3 linked regions of the Homo sapiens genome follow. The protein of the gene in region 1 purifies or fractionates together with the protein of each later gene. This does not show direct contact. Each region holds a gene or a part of one and is shown in the gene's direction. Other genes may lie near its edges.

Region 1 (4,152 bases):
GCCACAGCAGAAAGTGTCTCTCTCCTAGTGGGCTTTTCCGCAGGCCAAGTCCAGCTTATAGACCCAATCAAAAAAGAAACTAGCAAACTTTTTAATGAGGAAGTAAGTAGCACCCTGTCTTAGCTGTTAAGAATCCCTTTAAGAGTTGATACATTCTTACCGAGGGTAGTCGGCCTTATTTTGCACTTCAAGCTAAGCCCATTTTTTATTCGCCCAGCCCTCCTACCTAGTATGCCCAAGTTTAAATGTGGTGGATTAATTTGTTGACCTTACCTGTTCTTCCTTGGGGTGACTGTTTTGTGCATTTTTATGGAGCATGCTCAGGTGTCTATAACAGGTGTTTTAAAACTCTTCTATAATGGAGATAGGGACAGTACTGTAACTCGGTATTTATAATTTAAGTAAGAAAATGTGGAATTCCAAAGTTGGTTCACATCACCAGAACATTTCATGCAGATCAAAGAACTTGATGACATTTCCTTAGGCTGCTTAAATTGTAGCCAAAGCTTTTGTATGTATGTTTGACAGTCATTTGGCTAAGGAGTACTTCACTTGCTCTTGAAAATAGTTACTGTAAACTCATCTTTGACATAGTTGGAAATCCTGGCGCTTAAAGTTTGGTCACATGACATAGCTTTTGCCAGTGTTGTAGTATGTACTGGGGTTTCTAGTATCTTCAATTTCATTCTGGAAAGAGCCTGAGATATCTGAGCTGTCTGTTCAGGAACATGTCAGGACTGTTAAATGTGGCATATAGAAATTGCCAAGTAGATTATATTTTTTAAAGCTGTTGGAGCATCTTTCAGCCTCAAGTATTGCTATTTCATATTTAATATTCTTCCTCGTCTGTTTCAGTATGACTTTTCTACCAAGTGGAAAAGATAAGGTAGGCTTGCTGAGTTAGAAGCCCTGGGTTCCAATCTCTACTTGGGACCTTGCCCCTGAGGCGCAAGGGTCAGGCTATGTGGGACCCCCTCCCTTTTGCATTGTTGCATGGTTTTAACATCATTAACTTGGAACAAAAACACATTATAGAGTATGGTTTTTAAGAAATAATTTTGTTTGGGGAAGAAAATTCAAATTGACAAATGGCAGTTAAAATTTGGATTCTTTTGCAGTTATGGTACTTGCTATTCATGCAAATCAGTATCCACCCAGGGTGCTCCTGTTTGACATTGCCAGTGGATTTGATAAGATCTTATGAACCATGCCATCTCTTCTAGTTTCCTCTGAGTTGACTGGAAACAAAACTTGCCATCTGGACTGACAGATTGTAGAGGAAAAGTATTTAATCCCATTTTCCATTAAAAAAAAGTTAAGCAGAAAATATTTTATTTACCTAGATGTTTTTTTAGTATCATCTGCAGAAGTGATTTCTAAGTAGCTGGATGATTATTTTTTTGGTGCTGAGTTTGGGGAGCAGCGCACAAAATTGGCCTCCTCTGCACTGTTAGCAGAAATTGTGAATTTGGAATCATTGTGGGTTTTTATTGTTTAGGTAGGGGAGAGTGTGATTGGAGGGGGCAGGGATTGGAGCCATGTAAGGGCTGTTAGTAAACAAGACCCGGAGGCAGCCCTGGCCGAGGATGGTACAGAATGCCGCTTAGAGAACAAGAAAGTTTTGTGTGTCGTGGCAGGGGGAGGGCAGGGAGTTGGAGACCACACGTCCCCAGAATCTCAGGGCTCTGGGAGCACTCAGGCTGCATTGGCCAGAACTATCCCTGCCCTGGTGACTGGGAGTTGCAGGCTGGAAGGCAGCTCCTCATTCTTCATGATTTAAGCATGAGTTATCTCATACTCACTTTACATTTTATTTGAGAAATTGCTATTTAGAATGCTAAGACTGTGTGTGGTTTAATGCCAGCTTTGCATTTACAGCTTGAGGCTGAAATCGATTGCCCTTCATAGTAAGGAGATCCTCTGGCCATGTGGATACATTTTTATCAGATTTTGGTCAGAATGTCTAAGAGCAAGGGTCACCGGAGGTTTGTTCCTTAGAGAGTGCCAGGAATGGTGGTGAAGTAGTCATCGTGTCGTGCTTTGCTGTGGTGTGACATTTACAGGTTTCAAGGCACTTTTACCTATGGCCTCTACAGGGAGGGTGGGGAGTTGTTCCCATTTTACAGATGAGGAAATAGTCAAAGAGCACATAAGTGAATTGTCCAGATCAGGTAGCAAGTTGATGATAGAGTTGGAACCAGAAATTAATTCCAGAAACTCATTGGTTACAGGACCCACCATGCATGGTTGCCAGATGAGCTCTTGCCCTTCCGGGAGCTCACAGTTTAGTAAGAATGGACAGAGAGTACTGGGCACGTGTCAGCACAGCGATATGAACAAAATACCAAGGGCTAGCTGCCGCAGGAATTCTTTAGTATGCATTTTAAAGTTTTTTAAAATGTTAAGTTCACTGGGGGAGTTCCAAGAAATGCTTTTAGAAAGTGATGTTTGATGTGGGTCTTAAAGGGTACATAGTCATTAGAGGAGGGTAAGGAAGGCCTTCAAAGCTGGAGGAACAACTAGGCATGTGAAAGAACATCCAGTAACAGCTTGGCCACATCACAGTGTGGGACTTGGAGTGTCAGAGTTCGAAGCTGGAAAGATAAATTGGAACCAGCTTGTCTTATAAAAGCCTTTTCATGTCACGTGAAGCAATTTGGAACTGACACTGGAAGATGTGGGGGAACCTTTGGCCTTTTAATGAAGGGAGTGACAGGATCAAATGTGTTTTTTTAGAACTCTTGTCAGCACTTGTGGAAGGTGGATTGGAATGAAGAAAGACAGAATGAAGGTAGCAAGACCAGTGAGGAGGCTCTAGTAACTGTCCAGGTGAGAGCTGAGGGCTTGAACTAGAGTTGCGGCCATTGTTTCATTCATTCAGGACCTTGACTACCTACCACATGCCCAGCACTGGGTCTGCAGCAGTGGGCAAAACCTGCCCTCCTGTGACCCCTCTCAGGAGGGAAGAGAGGTATAATAGCACCACCCCCGAAACACTGGTGACCACAGATGGTGACACTTTGTGATGTAAGAGGCAAGAGAGCAGGCCCAAGAAAGGGAGAGAATCACAGAGGTCTACTTTATTTATTTATTTATTTATTTATTTATTTATTTATTTATTTATTTATGAGACAGAGTCTTACTCTGTCACCCAGGCTGGAGTGCAGTGGCGCAATCTTGGCTCACTGCAACCTTCACCTCCCAGGTTCAAGCTATTCTTGTGCCTCACCCACCCAAGTACCTGGGATTATAGGCCACCTGACTAATTTTTGTATTTTTAGTAGAGACGGGATTTCACCATGTTGGCCAGGCTAGTCTGGAACTCCTGGCTTCAAGTGATCCACCCACCTCAGCTTCCCAAAGTGCTGGAATTACAGGCGTGAGCCACCACGCCTGGCCAACACAGAGGTCTACTTTAAACTGGGAGGCAGAGGACATCTCTCGGACGAAGTGCTATGTTTTAAGCTGTGCCTCATGTGAGAAGAAGGCCAACCAGGTAAGGAACTGGAGATGGAGCTTTCCTGCAAAAGGAATAGCACATGAGGGCCCTTGAGCCCAAGGAAACTGAAAGAAGGACGGTTTACCTGGGGAAGGTGGCATGAAGTAAGGGCATGAGATTGGAGGGCCACATCACCTACGGCCTGATCCAGATTTGTTTCTTAGCCTGAAGTACGGGATTCCTTAGAAGGGAGCAGGTGCACAAGGCAGGCAGATTGGTGTTTTTGAAAGGTACCCTGGCTGCTTTTTGGAGACTGAATTGGAAAGGTGTATTAATAAATCAGGTTTCTGGGTGTCTCTTGCTGTGTTGGGTGAGACTGGGAAAGGAGCAGTTGTCAGGGAATGGAGGGGAAGATCAGAGGTTCTGGTCTGTACTTGCTAAGTTCGAGAGACCTGTAGATAGTGGGATGTATGGATCTGGAGCACAAAACTAGGGGTTACAATTTGGCAGTTGTCAGCATAGAAATAATAATCACATCCTTGAGATTAGATGAAAGGTTCTTTGGAGAGATGATGGTGAGAACAAAGAAGGCCTGGGTCTGAGGCCTGATTATACTCCAAGATTCTGGCCATCTCAGCTACTGCTTTCAAAGGGGCACTTAACACACAGTTAATTACCACGACATTTACAACTTCACAGCCCAGAATGCTGAG
Region 2 (3,826 bases), on another chromosome or scaffold:
GCAGGTGCTGATGGAGCCCGAGGGATGCCTGGAGATCCTGGAGTGAAGGTAACAGGCTTGGGCCCCTCCCTGAAGCCTGTAGCCTTCAGCCCACGCTGGGCTCAGTTGTTTCTTGGGGATGACCTAGTTCTCCAGGCTTCCCCAGGATCAGCACCCCCCCAGCTCAGGGTGCAGTAGGGAGGGGTGGGCTTGGACAGGGTCGTGTCCTCACTCTGGCTATCCTTCCTCCTCCTAGGGTGACCGAGGTTTTGATGGACTCCCAGGGCTCCCTGGAGAGAAGGGCCATAGGGTGAGTACATTAGTGGGTGTGTGTTGTAATTGGGGATAGATCTTCTATGGGAGTGAGGATAGGTAGGGAAGGGAGGCTGGAGGCTTGGCAGGAGCTCAGTGAAAGTAATGGATGGGCTAAGTGCAGAGGTTCGGTGTCTGCCTGTGTTGGGGGCTCTGAAGCCCCTCTTATGAGTTCCCCCATTTTGCAGGGTGATACTGGTGCCCAGGGCCTTCCTGGTCCCCCTGGTGAGGATGGAGAGAGGGTAAGTGTAGTGGCAAATGTAGGGGCTGGGTGCAGGGGAGGTCTAGAAGGCACAGCAGCTTTACCGTGTCCTCCTCCTCCAGGGAGATGACGGGGAGATTGGGCCTCGAGGGCTGCCTGGAGAGTCGGTGAGTGTCCAAGGGCTGGTGCTGGGGGAGGGGGCTCTGGGGAAGCCAGGAGGGGGACATGAGCACTAAAGGGACACAGTTTTATCCATTCATGCCGTCTCCTCCCCTCACCGTGAATGCAGGGACCTCGAGGTCTCCTTGGCCCCAAAGGCCCACCTGGTATTCCTGGACCCCCTGTAAGTGACTCCCTGACTTCTGACCCTGAGGTGACCCCTTGACCTCTCCAACTCTCCACCTTTCTAGCTGCCTTCCTGCTCCCTCTCCTCTCTCGGCATGCTTCCCATTCCCTGTGAGCTCCCCCTGCTCTGGCCCCACACTGCCCTGCCTCAGCATTCGCTCCCCGTGCACAGGGAGGGCCATGTGGCGTGGTGCCCTGAGGGCTCTGGGCATAGGAAATAAATCTTCAAGAAAAACAAAACCAAAGCCCACAAGCCCACAGATCCACAGTCCCACACACTGCAGGCCTGGGCCAGCTGTGTTTGCTTGGGTTTGGGATGGATTGGAGGTCTGACCGTCACACCCTCGGGAATGGCCGGGCCTCTGAAAACCACAGGTCCCTCCGGGCCACCTTCAGGCTGCTCACACCCATCTTGTGTTTCAGGGCGTCCGAGGCATGGATGGTCCCCAGGGCCCCAAAGGGAGCTTGGTGAGTGATGGATAGGAGATCCCACCCCCATTCTTATCCCCCGAGGTCCCTGCCAGCATCCTGTTGGCCGCCATTTTGACCCCTGCCTGCTTCCTGCTCTTGCCTTCTTGGCTATCGCTGCTGGGACTCAGCTCCATGCTCTAAATGTGTTCTATCTCCATCTCCTTCTGACCTGTGCCTGGTCACCTGTTTCTAGGGACCCCAGGGAGAGCCAGGACCTCCTGGACAACAGGGCACCCCTGGGACCCAGGTGAGCGGTGCCCCTACTCCGTTCCCCAATTTTCATGACTTCCCTTGGGCTTCCACAATGGGTGAGACCCTGGAAGGATACAGGAAATTAAGGGTTTCAGGCCCTTGTTGCTCATGCTTTGAATCCGGGAGGCTGGATAGAAGAGACCCTGGGAGGCCCCTGTGACTTCTCTTTCCCTGTATGTAGGGTCTTCCCGGGCCCCAGGGTGCCATCGGCCCTCATGGAGAGAAGGTAAGTGACTAAGTGATTTGGAGGACAGGGGGTTTAGAGTGGGGATGTAGGGAGAACCCTAAATGTCTGCTGGGATTTTGTCTGTGTCCAGACATGACCCCTCTAGTGACCCTGAGCCTCTTTGTCTTCCTGCAGGGTCCTCAAGGGAAGCCAGGGCTCCCCGGCATGCCTGGCTCAGACGGACCCCCGGTGAGTGGGACCCCACTTCCGAATCCAGTTCCCCTTGGCCTTCCACCCCAGTGCATGACCTCAGAGCTCCTTTAGTGACCCTTGCACTGAAAGGTCACTGGTGGTGCTTGTCCATGGACAGTTGGCTTCACTAGGTCACAGGAAATTTGGGTTGGAAGAAGTGTAGGGAGGGGTGCAGAGAGGGTGACAGGGGCCACTGGTCACATTTTCTATCCCTTACTCCCAGGGTCACCCAGGGAAGGAAGGTCCCCCTGGAACCAAAGGAAACCAGGTGAGATCTTCCATGTCTTTATCCCCTGAGGGAGTCTCCACTCAGACTCTAGAGCCTCAAAGTCCTTGGGATTCCCTTGTCTCATTATTCATATGGCTCTGCCACATTCTCAATTCCTGTGCCCCGTAACCCTACCCAGACAGCAATGTTGTTACTTCCATTTCTTCCACCCCTGGAGGCCCCCACAGTGACACTCTGAGGCCCCTTTATAAATGCCTCTCTTTTATCTTCCAGGGTCCCTCTGGACCTCAGGGACCTCTAGGATACCCAGGACCTCGAGGGGTCAAGGTAACTGACCACCAGGCTGGGAGACAAAGGGCTGTGGTCAGGGGAGCTATATGGGGTCTTAGGAGCTTGGTCCTTCCAACCCACCTCCATCCCCTGATCAGTCTACTTCTATCCCCTCTCTAATTCTAGGGTGTGGACGGAATTCGGGGTCTGAAGGGTCATAAGGGTGAGAAGGTGAGCACCATGCCCCCAGCTTCCCAGCACCTCAGTCCTGCCATCTCCTCTCTTCACTGCCTTCCCTCCAGCCTGCCCCGCACTGCCGTCCAGCTCCCGAGCCCCTGCTTCCACCTATGTTCTCAGAATTCCCATTAGAACCCCAGCCCTCTGTCATCTGTGGTGCCCTCTCACCTCTATCTTTCTCAGGGTGAGGATGGCTTTCCTGGGTTCAAAGGTGACATAGGCGTGAAAGGTGACAGGGTGAGTAGAGACCCCACACTGGCCCCAATTCCGTGTTCTACTGAGCCTCCACTCTGGAGACGCCAAGCACCGGTTTATTCTCCTGAGTCTCCAGACTCCACAGTTCCAGTGCTGTGTTCCCTTGGGAGCCTGACCCCTACAGGATGATAGCCCCATGGTCTGTGTCATGCCTGCCCTCCCATCACTACACTATCCCTACCCTGTGGGCTTCCTGTCCTGCAGTGGCTCCTGGGACCCCTCTAGCCCTCCTCAGCCTCACTGTTGCCCATTTCTCCTCTGGGCCCAGAGCCCACCTCCAGTCCCCAGCACTCACCTGTCCTTCCCTCTCACACAGGGCGAAGTTGGAGTCCCTGGTTCCAGGGGAGAGGATGGTCCTGAGGGGCCAAAGGGACGCACTGGACCGACTGGAGACCCTGGGCCCCCAGGGCTCATGGGCGAGAAGGTGATGGGATGAGGGTTCTGTGCCTGGGTCCTCTGGGGGTGTGGGCACTGGGGTCAGGATGGGCATGGGTGCCCGCCGCTGAAGTCAGCCAGTCAGTTGAAGATGGCCATGCATTAGTCATACTTCTGTCTGTGTAAATGGCATCTCTCAGCTGCTGATGGGCAGAGGGGATATATAAGAAGTCAGGGAAAAGTCCCTGACACGAAGAGTTGGACGGAGACGAAGCTTAGAGAGTAGCTGTTGCTTCAAGGCAGAGTGAACATGCGTTCGGACTCCAAGCAGCAGGAGTTCTGAGATGAGAGAGTCTAATAGCAGTGAGGTCTGTGGTCTCCAGAGCTGACTCTCCCCAGCACTTGCCCTGTGCCAGGTGCTGTGCTGATGCGTCCTATCTATCCTATGAGGTAGGCATGTGACGTACTGTTTTGCTGAGGT
Region 3 (3,826 bases), on another chromosome or scaffold:
ATCTCAAATATTTTCAAACCGCATTAACTTAGAATTTAGTGTGCCAGACACTGCTGGATGAGGAACTGAATAAAATACTAGACCTGACCTCAGAGAGCTCCCAGGTTAGTTGAGAGGCATAAAGGGGAAGAAATAATTAACCGTGGGACAAGTGCAGTGGCAGAGGTACGTACATACAAAGTGTTTTTGGGAGGGGCACATAAGACTGCTTGGAGAGTTAAGGTTGATGTTGAAAGGGCATGAGGTTTGAGCTGGGTCTTAAGAGATGGGTAGAGGTTCAGCAAGCAGAGAAAGAATAAGAGGGCATTTTCAGCCAGGGAAATAGCACAGTTGACAACATGCAATGTTTTGCCACTCTAGAAAAGCACTGGATTTTCTTTGTTTGTTGACAATTTAATCATATTTTACAGTTTGCTACTTTTGTTTTAACATACACTCTTATCTTTTAGGGGGCCACTGAATGGTCTGACTGTTTCCATATTGCTGGTGATAATAATCCACTGGCTGTGAATAGAGCAGCAAATAACATTGCATCTTTATTGACCAAGAGCCAAATTAAAGAAGGGTAAAAATTTAAAAGATTTCTTAGCATCTTTTAGAGTTAGAGAATCACTTTTTATATTGACTTTATGAATTAAAACTCCCAGTGCATTGTGACGTCATTGTAACCAAAATGAATATACTATGAGACTCCATTTACATTTTTAAAGTTTATTGAAAATAAGTTATATTTTTAAAATATTATTTTAGCGATAATTTCCCCACCATATGCAATTTTTCATTTGTCTTATTCATATGTCTTTTCCCCTACATATTGGAAGAATATTTTATAGACTCATTTTAATTTCACAAAATTTTAAACAGTATATTTTTACATAGGCTTCTTTTTTGCTTTGGGTACAGGGTCTCATTTTGTCACCCAGGCTGGAGTGCAGTGACATGATCATGGCTCACTGTAGCCTCAACCTACTGAGCTCAAGCAATCCTCCTGCCTTGGCCTCCCTAGTAGCTAGGAATACAGGCATGTGCCACCATGCCCAGCTAATTTTTTAAAATCTTCGTAGAGATGGGGGTCTTGCTGTTTTGTCCAGGCTGGTGTCAAACTCCTGGCCTCAAGAGATTCTGCCGCTTCAGCCTTCCAAATTGCTGGGATTAGAGACGAGTCACCACACCTGGACCATAGTCTTTAAAGTCACTACATAAATTCCATCGTATAGAAATACTGCAGTTTATATAGCCTCGCCTCTATTTTATTACTAAGTCATTGGTTATATATTTCATTGTCTCTCTGATCTAATTTTTTAGGACAGTGCTTCTCAAACATTAATGTACATGTGAATCACCTAGGAGTACTGTTAACACAGATCTGATTTAGTAGTTTGGGATGGGACCTAAGAGTCTGCATTTTCCAGGAAACTCCAGGACAATGCTGATGCTGCTGGTCTATGTATCAACATTAAATCCTTTTACGTGTATTAAGACAAGTAGTTGGAAGGCTTCAATTTTCTTAAATACTGATTTATTGTGATGAATTAATTTTGAATGGTTGTTTCATATTTATTGAGGGTTTTTTTTAATGAGCCTAGTATATGGCCAGTCTTTTTTTTTTTTAATTAAAACTGATAAACATTTAAACAAACGTACCTTTCTAGCTTCTGAATATTTTATCTTGTTTGTACCTACACTGTCTGTTCAACCCGTACTTTTTTTTTTTTTTTTTTTTTTTTTTTTTTTTTTTTTTTTTGAGACGGAGTCTCACTCTGTCGCCCAGGCTGGAGTGCAGTGGCTTGATCTCGGCTCACTGCAAGCTCCGCCTCCCGGGTTCACGCCATTCTCCTGCCTCAGCCTCCCAAGTAGCTGGGACTACAGGCACCCGCCACCATGCCCGGCTTATTTTTTTTTTGTATTTTTAGTAGAGACGGGTTTTCACCATGTTAGCCAGGATGGTCTCAATCTCCTGACCTCATGATCTGCCCACCTTGGCCTCCCAAAGTGCTGGGATTACAGGCATGAGCCACTGTGCCCGGCCTCAACCTGTACATTTCTATCCATTTTACTTTGGTTTTTAATATTTTTTGCCTTTTGTTTTGTGCAGTTATTGGTATGCGGTTATAATACATATTTTATGTGTACTTTTAAAAATTATGTAATGATTGCTTTTATTGCATTTTTTTCTTAAATTCTTCATTAAATGTCAATTAAATCCTTAATTTCTGCTGATAACCTTTGACTTATCTTCAGTTCTTAGCCTGTGCATTATTTTGTTTCTTAAACCAGTTGCTTTGCCTTAATGAGGAGGATTTAAATCCTTTGTATTTATTATTATTCATTCTGTCTTCTGTCATCTATATTTTTTATCTTAACTTTTTTCTTAGTCTTGTTTTATATAGCATGGCACATATTTTCCTTTTGGTTTTTCATCTTGAAACAATTACCTATATATTTGCCAATTTTACTATCTGTTTTTCTTTTAGGCCTCCTGTTATTACTAGTTTTACAAACTTTATTCTTCAGATACATCACCCCATTATCTATTCTTTAGTATTGTTTTTCTCCAGTGTATGTTTTATCAGCAACTTAAATTTTTGTATCATCGGTTATGTAATTTACTGCTTCAGCATTGTTTTTAAAGTTGTCTTTTGCAGTTCTCTGCATTACAATCATGTTTTCAGTTTGTTTCCCTTTTTTCTGAGACGGGGGTCTTGCTCTGTCACCCAGGCTGGAGTAAAGCGGCACAATCCTAGCTCACTGCATCTTTCAACTCCTGGACTCAAGTGATCCTCCCACCTCAGCCTCCTGAGTAGCTGGGACTATAGGTGTGTGCCATCATGCCCTGCTAACTTCTTAAAAAAGTATTTTAGAGACAAGGTCTCACAGTGTTGCTCAGCTGGTCTCAAATTCCTGGAGTCCAGTGATCCTCCCACCTCAGCCCCTGAAAGTGCTGATTATAGGCACAAGCTACCATGCCCAGCCTGACCTATTTTTTACCTTTGTGCCATTTCTTAAATTTTGAATAGGTTGATATTATCACTGATATCCTTAGCAGTTTATGTTTTGCTGTAGCAGTCTCTCTTCAGAAACAAAAATTGTTGTAATAACTTTATGCTTCACAGTATGTTGAAGCACCTTTCCTTTGTCCCCACAGCAAACCCTCCTGGGGCTTGCCCATAGATGCTGTTCAGTGGGATATCTGCAATCTGCCATTGAGAACTGGCTCTGTGGATATTATTGTAACAGATTTGCCATTTGGAAAAAGGTGAGAAATACTAGTACCTGCTTGTCTTCTAAATATGTCATTATTTTCCTTGCGTTTATTCTAAGTCAGGAAAAAAATCTTGAATTTTAGCAGACTTAGCAGAGCTGTTTTTCACTTAACAACATGATGGATTCACCCATTATGTTTCTTCCGAGAACTCAGGAATGTATTAACTACATTTGGAATCCTGACCATCATGGGAGGTTCATTTTTAAATTACCTGTAATTCACTTTCTAGCCCATTCTTGAATTATATATCCTACACAAAAAGGTGGTAGAAGACTTGGTTCTCATTCTGTTTCTCAGCATAAATGATTCTTTTTTTTTTTTTGGAGACAGAGCCCTGCTCTGTTGCCCAGGCTGGAGTGCAGTGGTATGATCTCGGCTCACTGTAACCTCTGCCTCCCGGGTTCAAGCGATTCTCCTGCCTCACCCTCCTGAGTAGCTCGGATTTCAGGCACATGCCATCATGCCCAGCTTATTTTTGTATTTTTAAAAGACAGGGTTTCACCATATTGGCCAGGCTGGTCTCAAACTCCTGACTTCAGGTGATCTGCCCGCCTCAGCCTC

Evidence for each region.
Region 2: the proteins of WDR20 (region 1) and COL11A2 purify together in Homo sapiens (affinity purification with mass spectrometry; one large-scale study listed by BioGRID and IntAct). This does not show direct contact.
Region 3: the proteins of WDR20 (region 1) and THUMPD3 purify together in Homo sapiens (co-immunoprecipitation; one large-scale study listed by IntAct). This does not show direct contact.

The regions. Positions count from the first base shown.
Region 1 is NC_000014.9:102,195,019-102,199,170, forward strand, and holds part of WDR20 (WD repeat-containing protein 20), read left to right. Parts: coding exon 1-102; intron 103-108; exon of another isoform or gene 109-855; coding exon of another isoform or gene 856-886; intron 887-2,736; coding exon of another isoform or gene 2,737-2,829; intron 2,830-4,152. UniProt on the Homo sapiens protein: Regulator of deubiquitinating complexes. Activates deubiquitinating activity of complexes containing USP12. Anchors at the base of the ubiquitin-contacting loop of USP12 and remotely modulates the catalytic center of the enzyme.
Region 2 is NC_000006.12:33,175,142-33,178,967, reverse strand, and holds part of COL11A2 (collagen alpha-2(XI) chain isoform 1 preproprotein), read left to right. Parts: coding exon 1-48; intron 49-235; coding exon 236-289; intron 290-479; coding exon 480-533; intron 534-615; coding exon 616-660; intron 661-782; coding exon 783-836; intron 837-1,261; coding exon 1,262-1,306; intron 1,307-1,375; exon of another isoform or gene 1,376-1,502; coding exon 1,503-1,556; intron 1,557-1,742; coding exon 1,743-1,787; intron 1,788-1,922; coding exon 1,923-1,976; intron 1,977-2,202; coding exon 2,203-2,247; intron 2,248-2,481; coding exon 2,482-2,535; intron 2,536-2,664; coding exon 2,665-2,709; intron 2,710-2,898; coding exon 2,899-2,952; intron 2,953-3,286; coding exon 3,287-3,394; intron 3,395-3,826.
Region 3 is NC_000003.12:9,380,054-9,383,879, forward strand, and holds part of THUMPD3 (tRNA (guanine(6)-N(2))-methyltransferase THUMP3), read left to right. Parts: intron 1-449; coding exon 450-565; intron 566-3,145; coding exon 3,146-3,256; intron 3,257-3,826. UniProt on the Homo sapiens protein: Catalytic subunit of the THUMPD3-TRM112 methyltransferase complex, that specifically mediates the S-adenosyl-L-methionine-dependent N(2)-methylation of guanosine nucleotide at position 6 (m2G6) in tRNAs.